Linked DNA regions of Homo sapiens: region 1 is linked to region 2. The links come from fine-mapping of genetic effects on gene expression. A gene starts in region 2. The other region holds a variant in brackets. All regions are shown on one strand. Distances are from middle to middle.

What was found. PIP is the estimated chance that this variant, and not a neighbour inherited with it, causes the effect.
Region 1: its variant is the best candidate, but not a certain one, in a credible set for the expression of RRP12 in whole blood (TOPMed, PIP 0.81).

What each region holds. Positions count from the first base shown.
Region 1 is chr10:97,368,732-97,373,115 of GRCh38, reverse strand. RRP12 (ribosomal RNA processing 12 homolog) reads left to right here. Exons shown (of 34, transcript NM_015179.4): 18 at 1-70; 19 at 313-380; 20 at 950-1,043; 21 at 2,035-2,193; 22 at 2,320-2,400; 23 at 2,556-2,661; 24 at 2,842-2,949; 25 at 3,534-3,691. Among named protein-coding and RNA genes, the nearest start is that of RRP12, 30 kb to the left of the region's middle. The variant A/G (reference allele first, on the strand shown) is at 1,883.
Region 2 is chr10:97,399,296-97,403,679 of GRCh38, reverse strand. RRP12 (ribosomal RNA processing 12 homolog) reads left to right here and starts at 2,340. Exons shown (of 34, transcript NM_015179.4): 1 at 2,340-2,587; 2 at 3,146-3,375. The coding sequence starts at 2,449. RefSeq lists an enhancer at 2,807-2,856.

The sequences.
Region 1 (4,384 bases), 31 kb after region 2:
GGACACTCCAGCCCCTCGCCGGGCTGTGCTGGAAACCATCAGAACTTACCTCACCATCACTGACACTCAGGTGAGCCACGGAAGGGAGGGAAGGAGGGAGGAGGGGAGCTCTCAGGTGGGCAGGGTCAGAGAGGCCGAGACCCTACCCACCAGGGCTCACGTGGGTCTCTGTGTTTTGGAGCACATACCAGCAGTCATGGCTTGGGCAGGGCTGGGGGCTGATGGGGAGGCCGCTCTGGGACTGCTGCCATTGCTGCTTTCTTTCGCTCCTCCCCAATGACTCTCTTCTCCTCATTCCCTCGGGGCCACAAGTTGGTGAACAGTCTCCTGGAAAAAGCCAGTGAGAAGGTGCTCGACCCTGCCAGCTCTGACTTTACCAGGTAACATGCTCAGGGCCTCCCACTTGAGCTGGAGCAGCCCAGGGAGCTGGAGGGTGCATCTGGCAGAAGCACTGTGGGTTCCCTCTTGCATTATTTAAGGAAGCCTTGAAGTATTAACTCTCCAGGCTGTGCTGAGAGGCTGTGCTGACTAGTTCCTTCTTCCTGGAGAGGCCATTTAGTCTGGTAGGGAGGAACAAGGACCCAGGAGATACACTGCCCAGGTTCTGATCCCAGCCCCGTCACTCATGGGCTGTGTGACCTTGGACAAATTACTTATCCATTCTGCCTCTAAGGCCTCATCTGTAAAATGGGCACGATAATAGTTCTTGCAACAAGGTTGCTATGAGGATTGAAGGAGTTAGCAGGTGTAAAACACCAGGAACGGTGACTGGTACATCATGAATGCTCAGTTAGGTACTAGCTATTATTATTGTTCATGAGCTCCTTCAAGCCCCTTGTCCTCACCCTGACTTCTCCCACCTCCCCATACCCAGTAGACGTAAGAACACTGGTAGTCTGCGCCCTTCTCCAGCTCCCCATCCCTCTCCTTGTCCTCCTGCCCCGAGCAGATTGTCTGTCCTGGACCTGGTCGTGGCCTTGGCTCCGTGTGCTGACGAAGCTGCCATCAGTAAGCTATACTCCACCATCCGGCCCTACCTAGAGGTGAGCCTCGGGGGCCAGGAGCGCCACACAGCCACGCTTGGGGGCAGATGGGCTGTGGGAAGGTGGGGCCTGTCTTCATGTCTTTGTCCCTTGCTGCTTCCCGAGATCAGGTCCCTGTCTGCTTTCTCCTGCAGTGGCTTCTCTTTGTGTCCTGTGTAGCCCATCTGTCTTGCAGGTCCCAAAGGGACTGAAATGCACAGCTGTGCTTAGGCCTTGCGTGCTGAGTGACTCTTGTAGAACCAAGGCCATGCTCCTTTGCCTGGCTCACTCCCCAGGCCCATCCCAGACCGGCCTGAGCTTTATCCCACCCAGTCCACTCTCTACTTCTGCTGCAGCCTCCTTCAGCTGCCTTAAGCCTCCCTGATATAACAGGCCCTGTCTGTGCCTTTGCAGGGTTTGGGTCCTCAGCTTGAAATGCCCTCTGCTGTGGCCAGCAACCCTGCAGATCTCAGCCCAGCAGTGACCCCCTGAAAGCTGCCCCCATTGCCACAGTTTAGTAGCAGTTACCTAACAGTGTGAGAAGTGCTCTGGGGCAGCACTGCAGGTGGACATGGAAATCCAGGGCCAGGCCACGTCACCTCAGGAAAGGTGTCCGGCGTTGGGGGTTGGGGGAGTGTGACAGAGAGCTGGTTTGGAGGAGCAAGGAGTTGTCAGTCTTGGAAGGAGAGAGAAGAGTGCTCCGGCTAGAAAGAGCAGCAGATGTGCAGGCCTTGGCGCGTGCCAGGCACCATGAGCTCAGGCCACTGGAGTGAGCACTGTCCAGAGCTGGGTGAGTGGAGTGGATTGGTGGGCCCCACGGCACACACCCCCAACCCCTGTGCCTCGCCCAGGAGTTAGCC[A/G]CTCGCTGTCCACATTCCACTGGTCCTCTGTCAAGCCACATGAGCCCCCACGGACCCCTGCTCAGAATCCCTCCAGTGCTGGGGGATGCTCCGTGGATAGCATTGGACAGGGAGTGAGCCCCAGGCCTCCCTCACCGGTTCCTGTCTGCCAGAGCAAGGCCCACGGGGTGCAGAAGAAGGCCTACCGAGTGCTGGAGGAGGTGTGTGCCAGTCCTCAGGGCCCCGGGGCCCTCTTCGTGCAGAGCCACCTGGAGGACCTGAAGAAGACACTGCTGGACTCGCTGCGGAGCACCTCCTCACCCGCCAAGAGGGTGAGGGCTCTAGGGCCACCCGCTCTGCCGAGGGAGCCTGGGCAACACCAGGAAAGGAGCCACTGTTGAGGCTTGTTGGGTGGAGGTAGCATTGAGGGGTCCTGACTGGTAGCCCTTTGCCCACAGCCCCGTTTGAAGTGCCTCCTACACATCGTGAGGAAGCTCTCAGCTGAACACAAGGAGTTCATCACTGCCCTCATCCCAGAGGTGAGTGTGCGGGTGTGTTTTAGAGGGGGGTCCCTGGAATGTGGCTCTTAAGGGCCTCAGGATCCAGGGAGGGCAGTGATGGGAGTGGGAGGACTCGATTCGCTTCCCGGGCAGATGGCTCAGGGAGCAGATGCTGATGGAGTTGTCTTGGCCAGGTGATCCTGTGCACCAAGGAGGTGTCGGTGGGCGCACGGAAGAACGCTTTTGCACTGCTCGTGGAGATGGGCCATGCTTTCCTAAGGTTTGGCTCGAACCAGGAAGGTGAGGCCCAGGGGGCTGGGGGTGGACACTCTGCTCATAGACTGGGTGGGGGGAAGCACCCCTCAAAAAAGGTGGGGAGAGCTCTGTGCCCTGGCCCTGGGCAGGCTGCTCCTCTCTGGCCCTCAGCCCCCCTACCTGGTGGGTCCTTCCTGCTTGACCCACGTTGGTCTCTGTCCCCAGAGGCCCTGCAGTGCTACCTCGTCCTGATCTACCCTGGCCTGGTGGGCGCGGTGACCATGGTCAGCTGCAGCATCCTGGCCCTGACCCACCTCCTTTTCGAGTTTAAAGGTAAATGCTTATTTCCTAGAAGGCCTGAGAAGCCCTCAGATTAGGAAGATGCCCAAAAGGTCAGGATAAAGTGGCTCCTGGAACTGGGAAAAGGTGCCTGGAGGAAGTAAGAAAAGCCACACCCAGCCCAGTTTGCCTCCCTGTCTCCCTTCCTGCGGGTCGCTGCCTCCCGCCCTTGCGGCTATGCCAAGGCACCTTCCTCAGGTCTGTCCCCACGTGTGACTGTGCAGTCCAGTGGCCCTGCATCCCATTGTCAGAGTGGTTAGGAGGTGGTTAGGGCTGATGCCTGGATTTTAGTCCTAGTCCTGCCTCTTGGCAACCACATGAGACCTAGAACAGCTTGATTAGCCTCTTAGCACCTCAGTTTCTTATCTCTAAAATGGAAGCAAGAAATAGCACCCACCTCAGGGTGACGAAAGGACCCAAGACCACTCCATGGAGCGTGATTGGAACCATCCCGGGCATACGGAAAGGCTCTCAATGTCAGCTTTTACTGACACTTGAGTGGCTGTTTTCCAGTGGGGAAGGTTTGGGTCTGAGTGGGGTCCTGGGTGTCTTAGACAGTGACCCCCTCACTGCCACAGGTCTGATGGGGACCAGTACAGTGGAGCAGCTGCTGGAGAATGTGTGCCTGCTTCTGGCCTCCCGCACCCGTGACGTGGTCAAGTCTGCACTGGGCTTCATCAAGGTGGCAGTGACTGTCATGGACGTGGCGCACCTGGCCAAACATGTGCAGCTGGTGGTGAGTGTCCCCGTTCCCCTTAGCAGGTAGCAGGGTGGCCTCTGAGCTGTTGGCATGGACCTGGCAAGCTTCGAGGCCAGCAAGTTTCAAACTATTTTTTTTGTAGCCAGAGGTCATTAAGGAGCCCTAAAAGGGACCATAGGGGAATGCCTGTCAGGTGGAGGCGAGGAGGGGGCACACTGCCCAGGTGGCTTTCTTCACCCCAGAGCCCTACATGGAAAGCAACAGGGGCTCTTCAGGGCAAAGGCCCATGGGCAGGGCCACTCCTCATTTTACAGATGGAGAAACTGGGCCAGAGATTTTCCAGATCATGGGACTCAGACGCTGGGCTCTCCCTCCACAGGACCCCCTCATCTTGCCTTTTTTTTTTTCCCATCTTGCATTTTGACCTTGCTGGTTAGAGGCCATTCCTTTGGGTCCCCTGCTGGGCTGCAGAAGGATCTGAAGAGCCCCTTGGTATAGGGTCCCTGGCCCTCTCCTGCCCAAGAGAAGCCTTGCCCAGGCTGGCGTAGGCTTCCAGCCAAGCTGTGCACTGTACCTACTGCCTCAGTTTCCCATGTGTGACTGGCTTGAGTCACATCAGACCTCTGGGTCCCTCTTGCATATTTTCTTTGGGTCTGGCCTTGGGTTCAAGATAGGAAGGGACAGATGAGAATCAGCATGCCCTCCCGCTGCCCTCGGAGCCTGCAGCCT
Region 2 (4,384 bases):
TTTTTATTTTTGAGACACAGTCTCGCTGTGATGCCCAGGCTGGAGTGCAGTGGCACGATCTCAGCTCACTGTAACCTCCACCTCCAGGGTTCAAGTAATTCTCCTGCCTCAGCCTCACAAGTAGCTGGGACTACAGGTGCCCACCACCACGCCCAGCTTAATTTTTTTTGTATTTTAGTAGAGATGGGGTTTTTCACTATGTTGGCCAGGTCTTGAACTCCTGACCTCGTGATCTGCCCACCTTGGCCTCCCAAAATGCTGGGATTACAGGCGTGAGCCACCACACCCAGCCGCCCATTCTTTTTTTTTTTTTTTTTAATTTTTTTTCTTTTTTGAGACAGGGTCTCACACTGTCACCCAAGCTGGGGTGCAGTGGTGCAATCACGGCTCACTGCAGCCTTGACTTTCTCTGGGCTCCCACCTCAGCCTCCTGAGTAGCTGGACTACAGGTTCACACCACCATGCTCAGCTAATTTTTGTATGTTTTGTAGAGACTGGGTCTCATGATGTTGCTCAAGCTGGTCTTGAACTCCTGGGCTGGAGCAATCCTTCCTCCCCTCTACTCCCTGCCCCCCGGCCTCCTACGGTGTTGGAATTCCAGGCCAAGCATCAGCCACTGCACCCACCTGTCCCTTTTGCCCATTCTTTTTATTGGATTGTCTGCCTTGTTCTTATTGATTGGTAGGAATTCTTTATATATTATAGATGTACTTTGTTAGTTCTATATATCTTCTTCCAAAGAATGCTGCTAAAGGTTTAGAATAAAGCTGCTGGGCAAGAGGGAAGAGAAATGTGTCTTTTGTAAGGTTTGGGATCTGGTTGAAGGATTTTAAGGAGGGTCTCAGGGGAGTGGGGATAAACTGGATCGGTTGCTGGTTCTGAGGTGGAATTAGGAGAACTGGGAATTGGCCGGATGCCAGGTGCGGTGGCTCATGCCTGTAATCCCAGCACTTTGGGAGGTGGGCAGATCACCTGAGGAAAGGAGTTCGAGACCAACCTGGCCAACATGGTGAAACTCTGCGTGTACTGAAAATACAAAAAAAAAAATTAGCCGGGCGCGGTGGTGCATGCTTGTAATTTCAGCTACTTGGGAGGCTGAGGCAGGAGAACTGCTTGAACCTGAAATGTGGAGGTTGCAGTGAGCCGAGATCGTGCCACTGCACTCCAGCCTGGGCACCAGAGCAAGACTCTGTCTCAAAAAAAAAAAAAAAAAAGAGAGAGAGAGAGAGAAATTGGAGAACCAGGGATTAATTAGGGATGGAATGCTGTCATAAGGCAAGGTGGCTTAGCAACTGAGTATCTCCAGTAATAAATGAAAATAGCAAAGCTTGTCTAGAACACCACTGACTGCTTTTTTCTCTTTTCAAGTCAAGCTAATTTTCACACTTTCAAGTCTCCATAAGTTTTGACTTTTCTTTTTTTTCTTTTTTTCTTTTTTTGAGATGGAGTTTCACTCTTGTTGCCCAGGCTGGAGTGCAATGGCGTGATCTCAGCTCACCGCAACCTCTGCCTCCCAGGTTCAAGCGATTCTTCTGCCTCAGCCTCCCCAGTAGTTGGGATTACAGGCATGCGCGACCACGCCCGGCTTATTTTGTATTTTTAGTAGAGACAGGGTTTCTCCATGTTGGTCAGGCTGGTCTCGAACATCGTGACCTCAGGTGATCTGCCCGCCTCGGCCTCCCAGAGTGCTGGGATTACATATATACTTTTATATGAAGGTATATGACTTTCATATAAATGTGTTTCTATGCTTAATTTTGAAAATAGATTTTCAAATGTAATATAAATGTACTTTTTGTTGTTGTTTAACTGCAAAAGAACTCCAGTTTTTTGTTTGCTTTGTTTTGTTTTTTTGAGACAGTCTTACTCTGTTGTCCAGGCTGGAGTGCCGAGGCGTGATCTCGGCTTACTGCAAACTCCGCCTCCCGAGTTCAAGTGATTCTTGTGCCTCATCCTCCCGAGTAGTTGGGATTACAGGCGCGCGCCACCAAGCCCAGCTAATTTTTTTATTTTAGTAGAGACGGGGTTTCACCCTGGTGATCAGGCTGGTCTCAAACTCCTGACCTCAAATGATCCACCCGCCTCAGCCTCCCAAAGTATTGGGATTACAGGCATGAGCCACCACGCTCAGCCAAACTCCAGTTTTATAAGGCTTACGCCTGTGGCCCTGAAACCTGGTCCTGGCTGGAGTAAGAACCCCATAGAACCCTTAGCAACCTAACTTCCTCCCTAGCAACGGATCTCCTTGGAGCTCCTCCCCATCCGAAGCCAGGAGGAGGTGTAAAACCGGATGTTGACTGTTTTACCATAGTAATGCACACGAATCCGGAAGTGACGCCAGAAGAAGAGGAAGTGAAGGCTACAGGGTATCCACGTGGGTTCTGAGCGTGTTTCTACGTCCCTGGAAGCCGGTCATTTAAGCTCATTCCTCGCCACGGCTTAGTCAACATGGGTCGCTCGGGAAAGTTGCCTTCTGGTGTCTCAGCTAAGTTGAAGCGCTGGAAGAAAGGCCACAGCAGCGACAGCAACCCCGCCATCTGCCGCCACCGTCAGGCCGCCCGCAGCCGCTTCTTCAGCCGGCCGTCAGGTAGCTGGGTTGAGACCCGAGCGCAGCCGGGGGCGGGGTTCCAGGCAGACCTGGGTCCAGATGAGTCTGGGGCCTCTGGGAGAGTGCGGGGCCAGGCATTGGACCTTTCGTCTCTTAGGATGTCGGATCTGGAGCCCTCTCTGAAGGGCAGTCCTTCCAATTTAGCAGATACAGAAACTGAGGTCCGCAGTAGGGAAATGTCTTGTGTAAGGTACCGCGGGTGTCAGAGTTGAGACAGATGGCTTGGACCTTGGGTAGCTCTTTACAGAGCGCGTTCACCTTCATTTATTTTGCAGGCCCTCTGAATGTAGCTCCCAGCCGATTCCCAGTGGCGTTTATGCCGCTGCTACAGGGAAGCAGAAACTTTTACATGGAGGATTCCCTTTCTCCTTGGTTTTTCAAGTTTTTAGGCATACAGTGGTTTTATGAGACTGGCTGTGTTCAGAATTCAGCCTCTCGGGTTGGAGATTTGGCCTGGGCTGGTTTGTTTCCCAGGGGTTGTTCTGTTCTCTTGACCAAAAGGAGGCTTGGACCTTATCTTGTGCCTCTGGCTCTCAGGAAGGAGTGACCTGACAGTCGATGCTGTGAAGTTACATAATGAGCTGCAGTCAGGGTCCTTGCGCTTGGGCAAAAGCGAAGCCCCGGAGACGCCCATGGAAGAAGAGGCGGAGCTGGTTCTCACCGAGAAGTCCTCGGGTACCTTCCTGAGTGGCCTTTCCGACTGCACAAACGTCACCTTCAGCAAAGTACAGCGCTTCTGGGAGTCCAACTCGGCTGCCCACAAGGAGGTAGGGGCGAGGGTCGGGAGGGCCATAGGATAGTGAGGAGAGGCCAACTCATGCCTTTTCTTCAGCTCTGGCCGACAGGTCTCCGATGACAACAGCTGGTATTTCTGGATGATGCGTCATCGCTCCTCCCCTTTATGTCTCCTCCTAGGGCAGGTTCTACTTTCTGCTTTTTATAAGAACATCTCCTCTGCTTAAGTACTTGAGGGTAGAAATATTTTCCAAACATTTCTCTCCTCAGCTATACCTAACACAGCACTTTTACACAGAGTATTTTCAATAAACATATGTTGAGTAAATAAATGCTGAGTAACAGTGATTAGGAAACGTTTTATCTAGCAAGAACTAAATTTATTTACTTTAATTTAACTTAATTCATGTATTTATTTTGAGACAGAGTCTCGTTCTGTTGGCCAGGCTGGAGTGCAGTAGCGCAATCTTCACTCACTGCAACCTCCATCTCCCAGGCCCAAGCAATCCTCCTGCCTCAGCCTCCCAAGTAGCTGCCATTACAGGCATGTGCCACCACGCCCGGCTAATTTTTTTTTTTTTTTTTTTAGTATATTTAAATAGTGCATTATTCAAGTAGCTAATTTTTTGTGTGTGTGTATTTTTAGTAGAGACGGGGTTTCACCATGTTAGCCAGGCTGGTCTCAAACTCCTGAACTCAGGTAATCCGCCCACCTTGGCCTCCTAAAATGCTGGGATTACAGGCATGAGCCACCGTGCCTGGCCTTACTTTTATTATTTTATCTATACTATAAAGTTATATATATTTTTTGTTATTGAAATAAAAAATGTCAAAATTCTAAATGATATCAAAATGATATAAGAATAATATAATGTGATGGTAGATCCCCCAACTTGAATCATTCACAGAGCTCCTGTTAATGGGTCATTGTCTGTCTTCCTGGACCAGCTCTGTCCAATAGTAATCTAAATTCAAGCCACATATGTAATTTAAAAATGTTTAGTAGCCATATTAAAAACTGAAAGAAACAGGTAAAATAAA